Linked DNA regions of Homo sapiens: region 1 is linked to region 2. Evidence: fine-mapped expression QTL. Tissue or cell type: whole blood. Region 2 holds a variant in brackets; the other region holds the start of a gene. All regions are shown on one strand. Distances are between the middles of the regions.

Region 1 (8,107 bases), 27 kb before region 2:
CTCAAGCTATCCTCCTGCCTCAGCCTCCCGAGTAGCTGGGACCACGGGCATGCACCACTATGCCTGGCTAATTTTTTTTTTTTTTTTTTTTTGTAGAGACAAGGTCTTCTTACGTTGCCCAGGCTGGTCTCGAACTCCTGGGCTCAAGTGATACACCCACCTCGGGCCTCCAAAAGTGCTGGGATTACAGGTGTTAGCCACCGCACCCAGCCCCTCCTGTATACTTTAAATAATCTCTAAATTATTTATAATACCTAATAACAATGTAAATACTATGTAAATAGTTGTTATACTGTATTGTTTACAGACACCAAAAAGTCAGTCACCAGAAAGACCATGTGATTAGAGTGTTAGAGGGTTGGAAATTTCAGCCCACCCACCAACCAACAGGAGAGATCGGGGGCGGGTGGCTGGAGATTAAGCTCTATACAAACTCTTAGACAACAAGATTTCATGAGCTTCTAGGTTGCTGAATACAGGGAGGTGCTGGGAGGGTGGAGTGCCCAGCGAGGGCATGGAAGCCCCATGGCCTTCTTATCTTTGCCCTATCCATCTCTTCATCTGGCTGTTCATCTGTATCCTTTATAAATCCTTTACAATAAACTGGTAAACATAAAATATTTTCCTGGACTGACGTCTGAATTGGGGCAGTCTTGTGGGAGACTGGGCCCTTAACTTGAATTGAGTTATAGGACATCGTGTTGATGTCCTTTAGAGTTGGTTGGTGTGTAGGGAAATACTCCCCCAGCCCCTCTTCTGGTCACAGAACTGCTCTGTGTTTTGTGCCAGTAGAAAGGAGAAAACAGTTTGTTTTTTCCTTTTACAGCCTCATCATTTAGCTCTCAGCTCAAATGGTAATTTCTCAGAGAATCTTTTCTGGGCCATCCTACTTGTTATGGCACTACCTGTCATATTGCTCTGTTTTCTTCTTCAAGGTACTTATTATTATTTGAGATAGAGTCTTGCTCTGTTGCCCAGGCTGGAGTGCAGTGATGCAGTCATGGCTTGCTGCAGCCTCAACCTCCAGGGCTCAAGTGATCCTCCCACCTCAGCCTCTTGAGTGGCTGGGACTACAGGCACATGCCACCACATCTGGCTATTTTTTTTTTTTTTTTGAGACGGAGTCTCACTCTTTCGCCCAGGCTGGAGTGCAGTGGTGCGATCTTGGCTCACTGCAAGCTCCGCCTCTCGGGTTCACACCATTCTCCTGCCTCAGCCTCCTGAGTAGCTGGGACTTAGGCACCCGCCACCATGCCCAGCTAATTTTTTGTATTTTTAGTAGAGACGGGGTTTCACTGTGTTAGCCAAGATGGTCTCGATCTCCTGACTTCATGATCTGCCTACCTCGGCCTCCCAAAGTGCTGGGATTACAGGCGTGAGCCACTGTGCCTGGCCACATCTGGCTAATTTTTTAAAAACAATTTTTTGTGGAGATGGGGTCTTACTATGTTGCCCAGATTGGCCTCAAACTCCTGGTCTCAAGTGATCCTGAGCCTCGGCTTCCCAGAGTGCTGAGATTACAGGTGTGAGCCACCGTGCCTGGCCCAAAGCACTTATTTATTTGAAATGACATGATTTGTTGGCTACCTCTCCCACTAGAATGTTTATTATAACAACCTTTCATCTTTTGTTCATGACTGTCCAGAACTGTACATGGTACATGGTGGGAATCTAAAATAACAAACATTCTCTTGTTAAGGTAATTAGTGATTTCTACATTGCAAAATTCAGAGACCAAATTTTGCTTCAAGCTTTCAGCAACAGTGGACACTGTTGACCATTCTTTCTTTCTCTCAATTACCATATCCTATTGTCCTAGTTCTTCCTCCTTCTTCACCAGAGGTTACTTCTCAGATTCTTTCTAGAATCTTCTGCTTGAGGTTCAAATGTTAGTGTTTCCATAGCCTGGGCCTCCTTTTTTGTGGTATCTCAATTCTCTCATGTTACTGTGTCTCTTCCCACATGTCTTAGTTCATTTTGTGTTGCTATAACAGAATACCTGAGACTGGGAAATTTATAAAGTATAGAGATTTATTTCTTATGGTTCTGGAGGCTGGGAAATCCTAGGTCCAGGGGCCTGCATCTGGTGGGGAGCTTCCTGCTGTGTCATTTCACGGTGGTAGGCAAAAGAGAAAGGGAGCTGAACTCATCCCTTTTATCGGGAACCCACTCCCCAATAACTAACCCACTCCTGTGATAATAGCATTAAGAGCTCTGCCCTCATAACCTAATCACCCCTTAAGAGTCCCCCCTCTCAACACTATTGCTTTGGGGAATAAGTTTCCAACACATGAGCTTTGGGGGACACATTCAAACAATAGCATCATGACATTAAATGCTATCTTTATATTTACAACATAACTACCAAATTTACCTTAGTTTTGAACTTCAGACTTTTACAGTTTATCTATTTATTTGACACGTCTACCTGGATGCCTAATAGTCACCTCAAACTTAACATGTTGAGCATAGATTCTCTATTATCTCTTATTTCAGTCCTTGGTCCCAGCATTGGTTGGTTCCATGCCGAGGCCCCACTGCTCTGCCATCTCTTATTCCACTCTTCCCCTAACTTACTTTGCTTCAGTTATGGCCTTGTTTGCCTCTTGTCCCCCAAATTTTGTTTTATTCACTGCTGTATCCCCAATACTGATAACAGTGCCTGGCAGGTACTGTTAGGTACTAATAGGTGCTCAATATAATAATCTGGTAAACATAAAGTGTTTTTTTGAGTTCTGTGAGCCATTCTAGCAAATTATGGAACTCAAGATGGGGGGTTATGAAAACCCCAATTTATTTGTTGAGAGGGAGTCTCTCTCCATGGTCCAGGTGCAGTGGGGCAGTCTTGACTCACTGCAACTTTCGCCTCCCAGGTTCAAGCGATTCTCTTGCCTCAGCCTCCCAAATAGCTGGGATTACAGGTGTGCACCACCACGCCCAGCTATTTTTCCTATTTTTAGTAGAGGTGGGGTTTTGCCATGCTGGCCAGGCTGGTCTTAAAGTCCTGACCTCAGGCGATTCACCTGCCTTGGCCTTCCAAAATGCTGGGATTACAGGCATGAGCCACCACGCCCGGCCTGGAAACCCTAATTTATAGCTGGTTGGTCAGAAGCATAGGTCACAACCTGAGACTTGTGATTGATGTCTGAAGTTGGGGCCATCTTGTGGGACTGAACTCTTTATAGGATCTGACCAAATAACTCTTCCTCGAAACACAAAGTTAGGGCTTTTGCATCCACTGTTCCCCAGATGGGAAGATGAGTCCCCTGATCTTTGTACGGCTAGTTCTTTCTCATCATTCAGGTCCCAAGCTTCAAAAACCACTTCCTCAGCAAGGCCCTCCCTGAAGTTGTGTCCCCAGGCTCCATTATATCACCCTGTTTTTCATCAATGTTATTACCTATCATTACCTATTATTTTTGTTGTTTAATTGGTATGTCGTTTGTCCTATTCTATTTCAATGAGTACAGGGATCTTGTCTGTACCATCCATGCCTAAAACAGTGCCTGGTGCGTATTAGGTATTCAACATATATTCATTGAATGAATGAATGAATGAATGAATGAATGAATGAATGAAAGAAACCCAAGCCTGCTAGACCTCAAAAGCCCAGAGAACTGTTTTCTCTGGCTGGTTCTTCATTCAGACGATATTTTCTCCTCTTGACATTTTATAGTCTTCCGGCCTCCATGCGCAAGGAACCATGTAAAGGTTCTGAGCCTTGAAACCAGACAATGTATTTCCCTGTTACTTTTCGCTTGAATCTTCTCTGTATTTAGCAACCAGTCATAGAACACTAACCATGTACCAAGCGCTATGCTAAGTGCTGAACACATAGAGCTGAATAAAGCACAGAACTACCCTTGGTACAATTATTGAGGTTTTAATAATACATAATTTGACTACATTTCTTAGATTTCGCGTCGTGACGTTTTCAGCCTCTCAAACTGCATCGCCTACGCACAGAAGCTTCCCGAATCTCAGACGAGACACAACAAAGCTGCGCGCTGCCCTCGCCCCGCCCGCGGGCGCGGCGGCGACAGGCCCTCGGCCCCGCCCACACCGCGGCGCCACGCCTCCAACCCGCCTCCAGCCGTGCCTCCCCAGGCCCTTGGCCCCGCCCACACCGCCTCGCCCCGCCCCAAGCCGCGCTGTGCTCCAGGGGCGGGGGCCCACGGCGGCCACTCACTGAGCCCCACGGGCCGCAGCGGCAGTGACGTAGGGTTGGCGCACGGATCCGTTGCGGCTGCAGCTCTGCAGTCGGGCCGTTCCTTCGCCGCCGCCAGGGGTAGCGGTGTAGCTGCGCAGCGTCGCGCGCGCTACCGCACCCAGGTTCGGCCCGTAGGCGTCTGGCAGCCCGGCGCCATCTTCATCGAGCGCCATGGCCGCAGCCTGCGGGCCGGGAGCGGCCGGGTACTGCTTGCTCCTCGGCTTGCATTTGTTTCTGCTGACCGCGGGCCCTGCCCTGGGCTGGAACGACCCTGGTGAGTGCTGCCAGGGCCCTCAGGCGCTTCGTTCGCCCTTTTCCGCCGCCGTCAGCCGGTGCAGGCTCCCCTGCGTTTCCGTGCGCCGTCTTCCCGGAGCCTGGGTGCCCGGATTCCCCATGTCTGACCTCTTTGCTGTTCGTGCTCTCCCTGGTTCCACTGCTCTTCCCAGGCGTCTTGGGAGGCGGGTAGGGACTGCTCGAGTGGGCGGGGCGGGACGGCTGGAGATCCTTAAGGTCCCCTTTCTCCCTGCCCCGGACTCCCGGAATTTGCCCATTGTCGTCTTTCTCATCTCTGAGTATAACTGGAGAGCTGGACACTCACCTGCGCATCTGCTTTGTTGTTATGGCTGTGTGATGTCATCGTGGCCTGCTGTTGTCATGGCTGCCTGTTGCTATCGCCGGCCGTTGCCTGCCACTGGCAGTCTCTGAGTCACCCTTAGCGGACAGGGCTGCAGACCTCGCAGGTCTGTTAGCAGAATCGCAGATTGCACTCTTTTTTTTTTTTTTGAGTCGGAGTCTCACATTGTCGCCCCGGCCGCACTGCAATGACGTGATCTCGGCTCACTGCAACCTCCGCCTCCTGGGTTCAAGAGATTCTCCTGCCTCGGCCTCACCGGTAGCTGAGATTACGGGTGCCCACCACCATGCCTGGCTATTTTTTTGTATTTTTAGTAGAGACGGGGTTTTACTATGTTGGCCAGGCTGGTCTCGACCTCCTGACCTCGTGATCCACCCGCCTTCATCCTCCCAAAGTGCTGGGATTACAGGCGTGAGCCACCGCGTCTTTATGAGAACCGCTGCCTCTTATCTGACGATTGCAGTGATGTACATCGCGCGGCACCAGCTCTTCCCATTGGCTTTCACCGTAGAGAAGAATTTAAAAAATAATTTTCTCGGTTTTTTTTAGTGATGGTACATGATAAGTGGGTTTTAGGAAAGAGGTTCTTTTATGTCAGTACAGTATTAAAATTGTCTAAAGAATTTTCATGGGATCAGTAATATTCCGTGCAATTAATACGTATATGTCTATATACTTAGATACAGATTTTGACTTTTTCCATGTAATAAATGACGCATGCTGTTACTTTGGAATTCTGTAAAAAAAAAAAAAAATGAAAACAACATCATTTTTGCTTTGCGAAGTAAAGATGGCATGGAAAGCATATTGCCTTTGTGATTTGGTGATTGGAAATGCCTGCATTGTCGAATTTAAGCAACAGGTTTATTTCTATAATAGCCTATTCTTACATGCTGAAATGAGAGAGAAGGTGCTATTTGCAAGCACATCACGTTGAGTAGTCATTTGATGTGGACATTTTATTACCAAAAATAAAAAGCCAAGTTGTATTTAAATGTCTGTACGTTTTTCTTTTGTATTTCTAGAAAGCTGTGTATGAGTGGGAGACTTGATCAGAATTACAAGTGAAAACCTAGAATGAAACTTTAATTTGTTGAACTTTGAATCAGTTCGTAAATAAATTTAATAAAGGAAGTTTACAGTTGAAGAGCCAGAAGAACTATAAAAACTATGAAAGAAGAACCAAATTTAAATTAAAGATGAACCACTTCCTGGTTTATCTACGCTGTAAAACTATTGTTCTGGAACACAAAGCACCACAATATTTTGCAGAGTAAACTCAATTGTTTTATGTAAATTCTACTTCAAAGTTTACTTTGAGGAACTTTTTTGTTTTGTTTTGTTTTTTTGAGACAGTTTCACTCTTGTCGCCCAGGCTAGAGTGCAATGGCGCGATCTTGGCTCACCGCAACCTCTGCCTCCTGGGTTCAAGCGATTTTCCTGCCTCAGCCTCCCGAGTAGCTGGGATTACAGGCATGTGCCACCATGCCCGGCAAATTTTGTATTTTTAGTAGAGACAGGGTTTCTCCATGTTGGTCAGGCTGGTCTTGAACTCCCAACCTCAGGTGATCCGCCCGCCTTGGCCTCCCAAAGTGCTGGGATTACAGGCGTGAGCCACCGCACCCGGCACTTTGAGGAACTTTTTAAATGAAGATACTTTATTGACATACTATTTATTAAGTCCTTTACTAAAGCATTAATCGGCTCCCTAATTTATCTTTTGTTTGACTTGGATGCCATTACTTTAGCTCACATTGAGCAGTAATTTGTCTGGAAAAAAAAATTAGCACCATTCTAAAGAGATTACCAATGAATTTTCAAAATTCCTTATTGAATGTAATCTTATATTAAGTTACTCTTCCGGGTGTTGGGAATATAGCAGTGAACAAAACAGTGTCTTGCCTCCAAGGACTTTACCTCTATTGGGGAGAAATAGACAATAAACAGATAAACATGTAAATAACATGCTATATTGTGAAAATTGGTATGCACCGTGTATGATAAACAGCGTAAGGAGGACATGGTGTGCGGGCAGAAGTGGAGACTTAAAAAACGTACATTGGTCAGGGAAGTCACTGTTAGGGTGACATTTGACTGGAAACCTGAAGTGGGGAGGAGGAGTAAATGACCTGAAATTACTTATATCTTTAAAGGCTCATTTGGGCTGCTCTGTGGAAAACAGACCGAAGAGGGTAGGAGGGAAGCAGGGAAACCAGTGAATTAATATATATTGCTATCTATTTTAATATTGTACAGTAAGTTCTTAGAGTGGTGACCGCTTGGCCCAGGGCAGGAGCAGTAGAGAGCTGGTTAGAGTAGCTGGATTCTCTTGTCACCTGTTTGGAAGGTGGAGCTAACATGATCTTCTGAAGGATCAGATGTAGGAGTGAGAGGAGAGAAGATGAGAAGTCCAAGGTTTTTGGCTTGAGCAACTAGAAGCATGGAGTTAACCATTTCCTGAGATGTGGAAGAATGTGGGATGATCAGGTTTAGGGGAGTTTGGTTTTGTTTATCTTGTTTGAGACCTGCCGTGATTTTGATTTATGAGTCTGGAGTTCAGGGAGCTCCTGTGTCCCTTGACTGATCTAACTAGTGGGGCGTGGGTATTAGAATTTTGTTCTTGGACCTTAAGAATCTCTAGGGAAGAAAGATGCTATAGGATTATGGTAATGCTATTCCATCTTAAAACTTTCAGTAATATTTATCATACCTGATCACCTGTTATGCTTCAAGTACTCAGCCAGATAATAAATTATATCTAAGCTTCACAACAAATTTCAAGGTTGATAATATTTTAATTTTGTAGGTGAGGAAACTTCTACACAGGTAAATTAAATGCCTTGGCCAAAGTCACAGCCAGTTAGTGACACCAACTTAGTTCAGTGTTCTTTGCATTATTGCAACTCTGTTACAATAAATTCAATTTATTATTTCTGTTATTTAGTTGATTAATACAGTCTGATTTTTCTAAACCATTGAACATTTTCATTGTCTTATTTTTTATGTATGAGGAGGTAGTAGTTTGTGTTTAATGTAGCATGGTTTATTTGAATATAGTTCTTGGAAATTTTAGATCTGTAGCCCATGTGGAATTAAATTTTTATATAGCTTTAGGTGGATTTTCTTGTGGCTGCATAGTCAATTATGCCAGTGCTATTTATTAAAGAAGACATCTTTTATCCACTAAATTAAAAAGACCACTTCATCTTACTGAATTCCCAAATGTATCTTGATTTATTTCTGATCTTTCTTTTGTTTCACAA
Region 2 (8,107 bases):
AGATGGCAGTCTACTAAATTCTTATTTGATTTATGTATGTGGAAGAGTTCTAGGCTGAGTAAACGGAAGTCTTTTTTTTTTTTTTTTTTTTTTTTTTGAGACCAAGTCTCACTCTGTCACCCAGGCTGGAGAGAGCAGGGGCATGATCTCGGCTCACTGCAACCTCTGCCTCCCAGGTTCAAGCAATTCTCCTGCCTCACCCTCCCGAGTAGCTGGGATTACAGGCGCCTGCCACCATGCCTGGCTAATTTTTGTATTTTTAGTAGAGACAGGGTTTCACCAAGTTGGCCAGGCTGGTCTCAAACTCCTGACCTCAGGTGATCCGCCCGCCTCGGCCTCCCAAAGTGCTGGGATTATAGGTGTGAGCCACTGTGCCCAGCCAACAGAAGTCTATCTTAAGTCACCACAAGTGAGTCATAGCCTCTGAATCATTTCCTAGACTTGAGCTGGTTTATAGCTCCAGAATCCCTTCAATGAAGGAGAGGCTGGGTTCCCCTTGAGGAAGAACCCTACCACATTGCCAGGTTTATATTGTTTATCTTTCCCCCAGTCTTCCCTCAATGGACCCGTGGCTATTTACTGGGGTAACTATGCCCTGGGGAAAGGGAAAATAATCAGATAGTTTAGGGATTACTGGACACTGAATTGATGCTAATTCCAGGAGGCTCAAAACATTACTGTGGTCCACCAGTCAGAGTAAGAGCTTATAGAGTTTTAGCTCAGATCAATTTCACAGTGAGTCCCATGGGTCCCTCGAATGATCCTGTGATTATTACACAGGAATGGAACCTGCGTTCTAGAATGCAGGATTAGAATAGACATACTCAGCAACTAGCAGAATCTCTACGTTGGGTCCCTGACCTGTGGAATGAAGGCTGTTATGGTGGCATAGGCCAAGTGAAAGTCACTAGAACTACCTCTATCTACAAAAATGATAAACCAATAGTGGCTGTGATATGGACACTTGATTAAAGGGGCTGAGAGGACTTGTGGGGAATCCCAATTGGAAGAACATCCAAGTTAGAGATGAAGGCGACTAGGGAGAGTTGGAGTGAGGAAATGGGGTGAAATGGAGGGACACAGAAAGTGCCTGAGCTCTGTGCCTCAGAATGTGATCTTATTTGGAAATAGAGTCTATGTTAGTCCATTTGTGTTGCTATAAAGGAATACCGGAGACCAAGTAATTTATAAAGAGGTTTAATTGGCTCACAGTTGTGCAGGCTGTACAGGAAGCATGGTGCCGGCATCTGCTCCTGGTGATGCCTTGGGAAGCTTCCCATCATGGTGGAAGGTGCAGGGAACAGGTGCGTCACATGGTGAGAGTGGGAGCAAGAGAGAGCGAGGGAGGGAGGTCCCAGATTGATTGACTGATTTTTTTTGAGACAGAGTCTTGCTCTGTCACCCAGGCTGGACTGCAGTGGTGTGATCTTGGCTCACTGCCTCACCTCACCTCTGCATCGTGGGTTCAAGTGATTCTCCTGCATCAGCCTCCTGAGTACCTGGGATTACAGGTGTGTGCCACCACACGTGGCTAATTTTTGTATTTTTTTTTAATAGAGGCAGGGTTTTACCATGTTGGCTGAACTCCTGGCCTCAAGTGACCCTCCTGCCTTGGCCTCCCAAAGTGCTGGGATTACAGGTGTGAGCTACCGCACCTGGCCAGGTCCCAGACTTTTAAACAACCAGATATTGTGTGAACTAACTGAGCAAGAACTCATTCATCACGAGGGGGATGGTGCTAAACCATTCATGAGGGAATCCTCCTGTATGCTCCCAACACCTCCCACCAGGCCCCACCTGCAACATTGGGAATCACATTCAATGTGGGATTTGGAGGGGACAAACATCCAAACCATAACAGGGTTACTGCAGATGAAATTACGATGAGGTTATACTGGAGTAGAGTGAACACCAATGATTCATGTCATTATAAAATGAGGAAATTTGGACACAGACACACAAACAGAAATAATCATGTAATGTCTGGAGTTCTGCCAAAAGCCAATATATGCCAAAGATTACCAGCAAACCACCAGAAGCTGAGAGTCAGGCCTGGAACAGATCCTTCCTCAGCACATACAGAGGGAGCATGGCCCTGCTACCACCTGGATATCAGACTCACAGCCTCTAGAACCGTGAGATAGTAAGTTCTGCCTTTCTGGAGGGATTACAGAGATTAATGCCACCATCAAGGACTTGAAGGATATAGGGCTGGTGCTTCCTACCACATCCCCATTCAACTCGCCTATTTGGCCTGTGCCGAAAACGGATAGAGAGTAATAATAGGTTGTCATAAACTTACCCAGATGGTGACTTCAATTGCAACTGCTGTTCCAGATGTAGTTTCATCACTTGGGTACATGAACATATCTGGTAGTTGAAACACAAGTGCTCTGGCAAATGCTTTTCCTCCATACCTGTTAGTACACACCATCAGAAGCAGCTTGCTTTCAGCTGGCAGGGCCAGCAATACACCTTCACTTTTCAGTCCTATGTCATAATTTAGTCTGCAAGGACCTTGGTTACCTTTCCCTTCCACAAGACTTCACACTGGTCCATGACATTTATTATATTAAGCTGATTGGATCTGATGAGCAAGAAGAGCAACTACCAAGAAGTAGCAACTACTGTAGATGTATTGGTAAGGCATTTGTATGTTAGAGGGTGGGAAACAAATCTGACAAAGATTCAGGGGCTTTCTACCTCAGGGAAATTTCTAGGAGTCCAGTAGTATGGGACATGTTGAAATATCTTTCTAAGGCCAAGGATAAATCGTTACATCTGGCTCCAGATGAAAAAAATGATGCAATACCTAGTGGATCTTGCGGGCAACATATTCCTTATGTGGTATGCAACTCTAGTCCATTTACTGACTGATCGCAAAGCTGCTAGTTTTAACAGGAGCCTAGAACAAAAGAAGGCTCTGTGATAGGTCCAGGTTATTGGGCAAGCTCAAGAGTCATTTTAATATTCATTTTTTTTTCTTTTTTCAGAATAGTCTTGCTCTGTTGCCCAGGCTTTAGTGCAGTGGTGTGATCTTGGCTCACTGCAAACTCTGCCTCCTGGGTTCAAGTGATTCACCTGCCTCAGTCTCCAGGGTAGCTAGGATTACAGGTGCCCATCACCATGCCTGGCTAATTTTTGTATTTTTAGTAGAGACGGGGTTTCACCATGTTGGCCAGGCTGGTCATGAACGCCTGAATTCAAGTGATCCGCCCGTCTTGGCCTCCCAAAGTGCTGGGATTACAGGCATGAGCCACCGCGCCTGGCCAGCAACCTAATTTTCCCTTGATAATTAGGATGAATTACCTGTTAGAGTGGCCCCTTACTTTGTCCATTTGTTCAGTAGCATGAGGAGCCCAAACTGTCCAAGGACAGTCTCAGGTTTCCAATTCATCGTGACAGTGTTTCCTGGTGGAAGCATTCCTTCCTTGTGCACTGGAACTTCCAAATCCACTATATCAGCACCACTTGTACACCTTCTCAGAGGCTCTTAACTGCCTTCTCCTTTCACGTGGTTGGTGTCACACCCACACCAGGTCACCCCTCCACTTTGAGATTTGAATAAGACGACACATTGCAAGGTGTGGAATATGGTTTCCTGTGTGGCTGCCGGGAGCCCAGATGGTGCAACTCAGTTGTTTAGGGAATTAGCTCAATGGAATGAGCAATGACCAATGGGAAATAAATTCCTATCTTTTCAGGGATTACTGCAAGATGTGTTTTCTTTTTGCAACTCTTCTGGAGAAGTCCTTTGTGCAGAGTGAACCTGCCTGCAAAGCGACCTACTGTGTGTCTGTAGCTCATTGTGAAGCAGTGCCGCAATCCATTGCATGCCATTGCATCACATCTTTATTTGTCTCACTTTTTTCCCTCACCCTGTGTCTTTGGACATGCTTCTGTCCAAGTGCCAGAAATGTTTTTCTTTTTTTTTGCTTGAGTTCTGCTTTCTAGAGGACTTGTGTTAAGACAATTGGTGTGAAAGTTGTACAGGATGGAATTTTGGAATTGGACTGTTCAA[G/A]GAATCAGAAGAACTTGAACATCGACATCTTCCTAAGTCTTTCTTTCTGGCATAGCAGCCCCTTCCTTCTTGCTGAAGGGGATTAGCCTTCCTTGTCTAGAGACCATGTAACGGCCTCACCTGAAGCAGATGCCTTGTAAGATAGCATTTTTTCTTAAAACTGAGTCCTGCCACATCTCTGCCTCCAGGCCAATAACTAGAGTCAGATCTCAACCTTAACAGGGAAAGACAGTCCCTGCTTTGGGAGGAAATAAGCCACACAGCAAAAGAATGATAACCTCTTGGAATTATAGCACTTGCCTTGGGAGGAAATAGGTCACATACTAAAAAAATCATGGTACCATACAGCTAATATGTACCAGCGAGAGTAGGGATAAACCATGTGGAAATTCATCTGGAAGTTGGGCTGTGGGAGGGGTGAAATATGGTGGAAAGAGAAGTCCTTTATGTTCACCTGTGAATTGGGATTCAATGTTCTGTCAAAGACATGAGCTACTGGTTCTAATAATTTTCTGGGATGGTTTCTTGATGGATGATGATGGTTTCCTGATTGGATGTGATGATGCCTACCGTAAGTGAGGTAGAGATGCCAGACTTTCTATGGTATAGTATTGAGCACAGTATCTGAAGACTCAAGGAAGTGGGATGTTAGAATTTACTTATGAGACTGAATAATCCAACATTTGACTCTACTCTGAGGGTTCAGAGCATCTCCCTTTACCAAGGTAGTAAGGAAGGTACTGGTGAGAGAGTTATTAGCATTTTTAAGGGCTCAATGATAGTTGTCCTCTGTAGGCAAAGGTTAATAGTGGGAAATGCTGTCATGAAAATGGACTTCCCAAGATTAACAGAGATAGTGGGTTTCCGAAGTGGCAAATTGCATCTCTTCATTGTCAGAGCCAACCAAGGTGGATGGAATTCCATACAGGACAGCAAGTCAAGAGTAGCCTGATTTACAAATGGATCTGCATGATATGCTGATACCACCTGGAAGGACAGTGAAGGGAAGTGCCCTGAGGGGGTGGAATTTTGAGCTATGCATCTGAAATAAGAGATGGCAAGACATATGTATCTACACTTTTCAAAATAGACAGTGGTTTCTGGTTTGAATGGGTGACCAGGGGCTTGGAAAAATGAGACTGAAAAATTGACGATAAAGCTGGGCAAGCTGGCTCATGCCTGTAATCCCAGCACTTTGGGAGGCCGAGGTGGGCGAATCATCTGAGGTCAGGCATTAGAGACTAGCCTGGCCAACATGGTAAAACCCCATCTCTACTAAAAATACAAAAATTAGGCTGGGCGCAGTGGCTCACGCCTGTAATCCCAGCACTTTGGGAGGCTGAGGCAGGCAAATCACAAAGTCAGGAGATCGAGACCGTCCTGGCTAACACAGTGAAACCCTGTCTCTATTAAAAATACAAAAAATTAGCCAGGCGTGGTGGCACACACCTGTAGTCCCAGCTACTCGAGAGGCTGAGGCAGAAGAATCACTTGAACCCAGGAGGCAGAGGTTGCAGTGAGATGAGATCGTGCCACTGCACTCCAGCCTGGGTGACAGAACGAGACTCTGTCTCCAAAAAAAAAAAAAAAAAGAAAGAAAAATTGATAAGGATATCTGGGGGAAATGTAGATGTATGGTCCTCTCTTAACAAAGATGAGATTTTTTTTTTTTGTCCAATATACATGCTTACAACTACCTGAGTAGTAGAATATCACAGAAATTCTGGCATCTCCACCTTGCTTACTATAGGCATCATCACATCCAAGCAGGAAGCCATCATCCCTCAGGAAACCATCCACTCAGAGTATTAGGATCAGTAAGTAGTTCATGTCCCCGACAGAACGTTGCATCTTAAGTCACTTCATAAGATGACATTTTCTGTGGCTATTATTCAGCCTCTTTTTTTCAGCAAGCCCTACTCCTGTTTCATTGGCTCATAAACAAAGTGGCTAAGGTGGTAGGGATGAAAGTTATCCATCGATTCAGCAAAAGGGTCTTCCATTCACCAAAACCGATCAGGTTACAACCGCTGCTGAGTGCCCTATCTCCCAACGGCAGAGGCCAACACTGAACCCTGAATACGGTTCAATTCCCTGGGGAAATCAGCCCACCATCTGGTGGCATGTTGATTACATGAGACCACTTCTATCATGAAAGGGGCAATGATTTGTTGTCACTGAAGTAGACATTTACTCTGGGTTTGGATTGGCCCTTCCCACTCGAAAGGCTGTTGTTGAAACCATGATATGTAGATTTACAGAATGCCTTATTGTGTATCACAATGTTTCACATTGTTTCTAAGTAAATCATTTTCTAGTGGATGAAGGGCAGGATGGGAATAATGCCCACATAATTTATAGGAGTTCCTGTCTTCCCTGGATCCAGAAATAGTAAATCTTCATGATTTTGCTAGCTCTGTGATGCCTTCGGGAAGATGTCTTTTCATATTTTGCTCAGTTTTGTTAGTTTCCGTGTGTGATAGGATTGGTTCAAATCATCTTGCCCTCACAAACATAAAAGTGGAATTCCCTTACTGTAGATATTTGAAGACAGCTCTATTTTTTATTCAAGTTAAAAATCCAAAACACTCTCAATCATTTCTTACTTTACCTAGCTTTTGGATCCTCCACCATCTGGTCATCTACCTAGGTTTGATCATGTTTTTTTTTGTTGTTGTTGTTTTTTGTTTTTTAAATCCCCAGCACAATCTTTCCTTATTAAAGGAGAAAAGACACATTTCTTCCTTACATTAAAATATTCAAAATTATGAGTATTTATCAAGTTAAATTATATTTAATTAAATTATATAGATAAATCATTCACAACTATATATAAGTTAAAATATGCATATTTCATAATTGAAAAAAGAAAAGCAATGCAAGTTCTTTGTAAAACATTCGAACAGTTTAGAAGGATATAAAGAGAAAAGAAAGAGTCTGTATCTGGCTAGGCATGGTGGCACATGCCTGTAATCTCAGCTACTCAGGGGGCTGAGGTAGGAGGATCACTTGAGCCCAGGAGTCTGAGGCTGCAATGAGCTATGACCGTGTCAGTCACGACAGAGCAAGACCCTGTCTCCAAAAAGAAAAAAGTCTATATCTGCCCAACTCCCCACGGCCCCCTTCGTTTCATCCTCTCAGTGTGGTCTCTCTACCTAGAAATAATTTCTGTTAACATTTTTTGGTTATTATTATAGAAATTATACACAATGTCCAGAATTTTTTCACAAAGAATAAATCTATTCTTTTCACAGCTGCATAGTATTCCATCATATGGATATATTATAATTTAATCTCACCATTCCTTTATCAATATCAATATACATTTACCACATTTTCAATTTTGTTCCCTATTTTCAACAATGCAATAATGAACATCCGAACATATCTTTTGTACATGAGTTTATGTTGTAGCTGCTCCAAACACTGGAGTCAGAGACTTTATTATAGTTTAGATCTTTAATGTACATGTGTTTAGATTTATAAGATATATTTCTAGAATAAGATTTATGCTTAAATGTGGCACCCAGACTGTAATTAAGATATGGATGTCAGAGAAGCTGCCATTTAAACTTGGCCTTTGATCTTCCTGCATGGGAGGATAAAGTGAGTCATTCCAAAGCGGATCTTCTTTGTTCTTTGTGGTTCATAAGTAAAGATAGGGTAAGCAGACATCTATTGCTCTTGGGGAAATGTACAACAAAGCCTTTTAAAAAGGGCTTGATGAAGGCTGCTTTTTAAAATATGCAGAGATGAAAGTTTGCTTAAGCAGAAGTACATTTTCATGGAAACCCAGGTGGCTACTGGAAGAGTATGCAGTATCTCTCACACATCTCTTTTGGACTTCCTCATAAATAGTACCTTTTGGATGGTTAGAGGCAGCTCTTAGGGGAGAGAAGGATGAGTGAAGACCGGGAATTCTGGGTTATTACCCGATTCTACATAGTCTTGGGAAAAAGTGGGTTCTGGGTTAGCTTGTGGCTATGTCTGGAACTGGAATTGTCCTGGATCCACAAGGGCACAATGAGTGTGTTGGGAAGAATGTCTGCATATGTGGTTTTAACCTGGAGAGCTATTACCTGGGAA

What was found. PIP is the estimated chance that this variant, and not a neighbour inherited with it, causes the effect.
Region 1: SARAF starts here. The variant in region 2 is fine-mapped to the expression of SARAF in whole blood (TOPMed, PIP above 0.99).

What each region holds. Positions count from the first base shown.
Region 1 is chr8:30,079,224-30,087,330 of GRCh38, reverse strand. SARAF (store-operated calcium entry associated regulatory factor) reads left to right here and starts at 4,267. Exons shown (of 6, transcript NM_016127.6): 1 at 4,267-4,484. The coding sequence starts at 4,382. RefSeq lists a silencer at 3,944-4,313 and an enhancer at 4,354-4,703.
Region 2 is chr8:30,052,220-30,060,326 of GRCh38, reverse strand. No RefSeq gene overlaps it. Among named protein-coding and RNA genes, the nearest start is that of SARAF, 27 kb to the left of the region's middle. RefSeq lists an enhancer at 2,188-3,387. The variant G/A (reference allele first, on the strand shown) is at 4,022.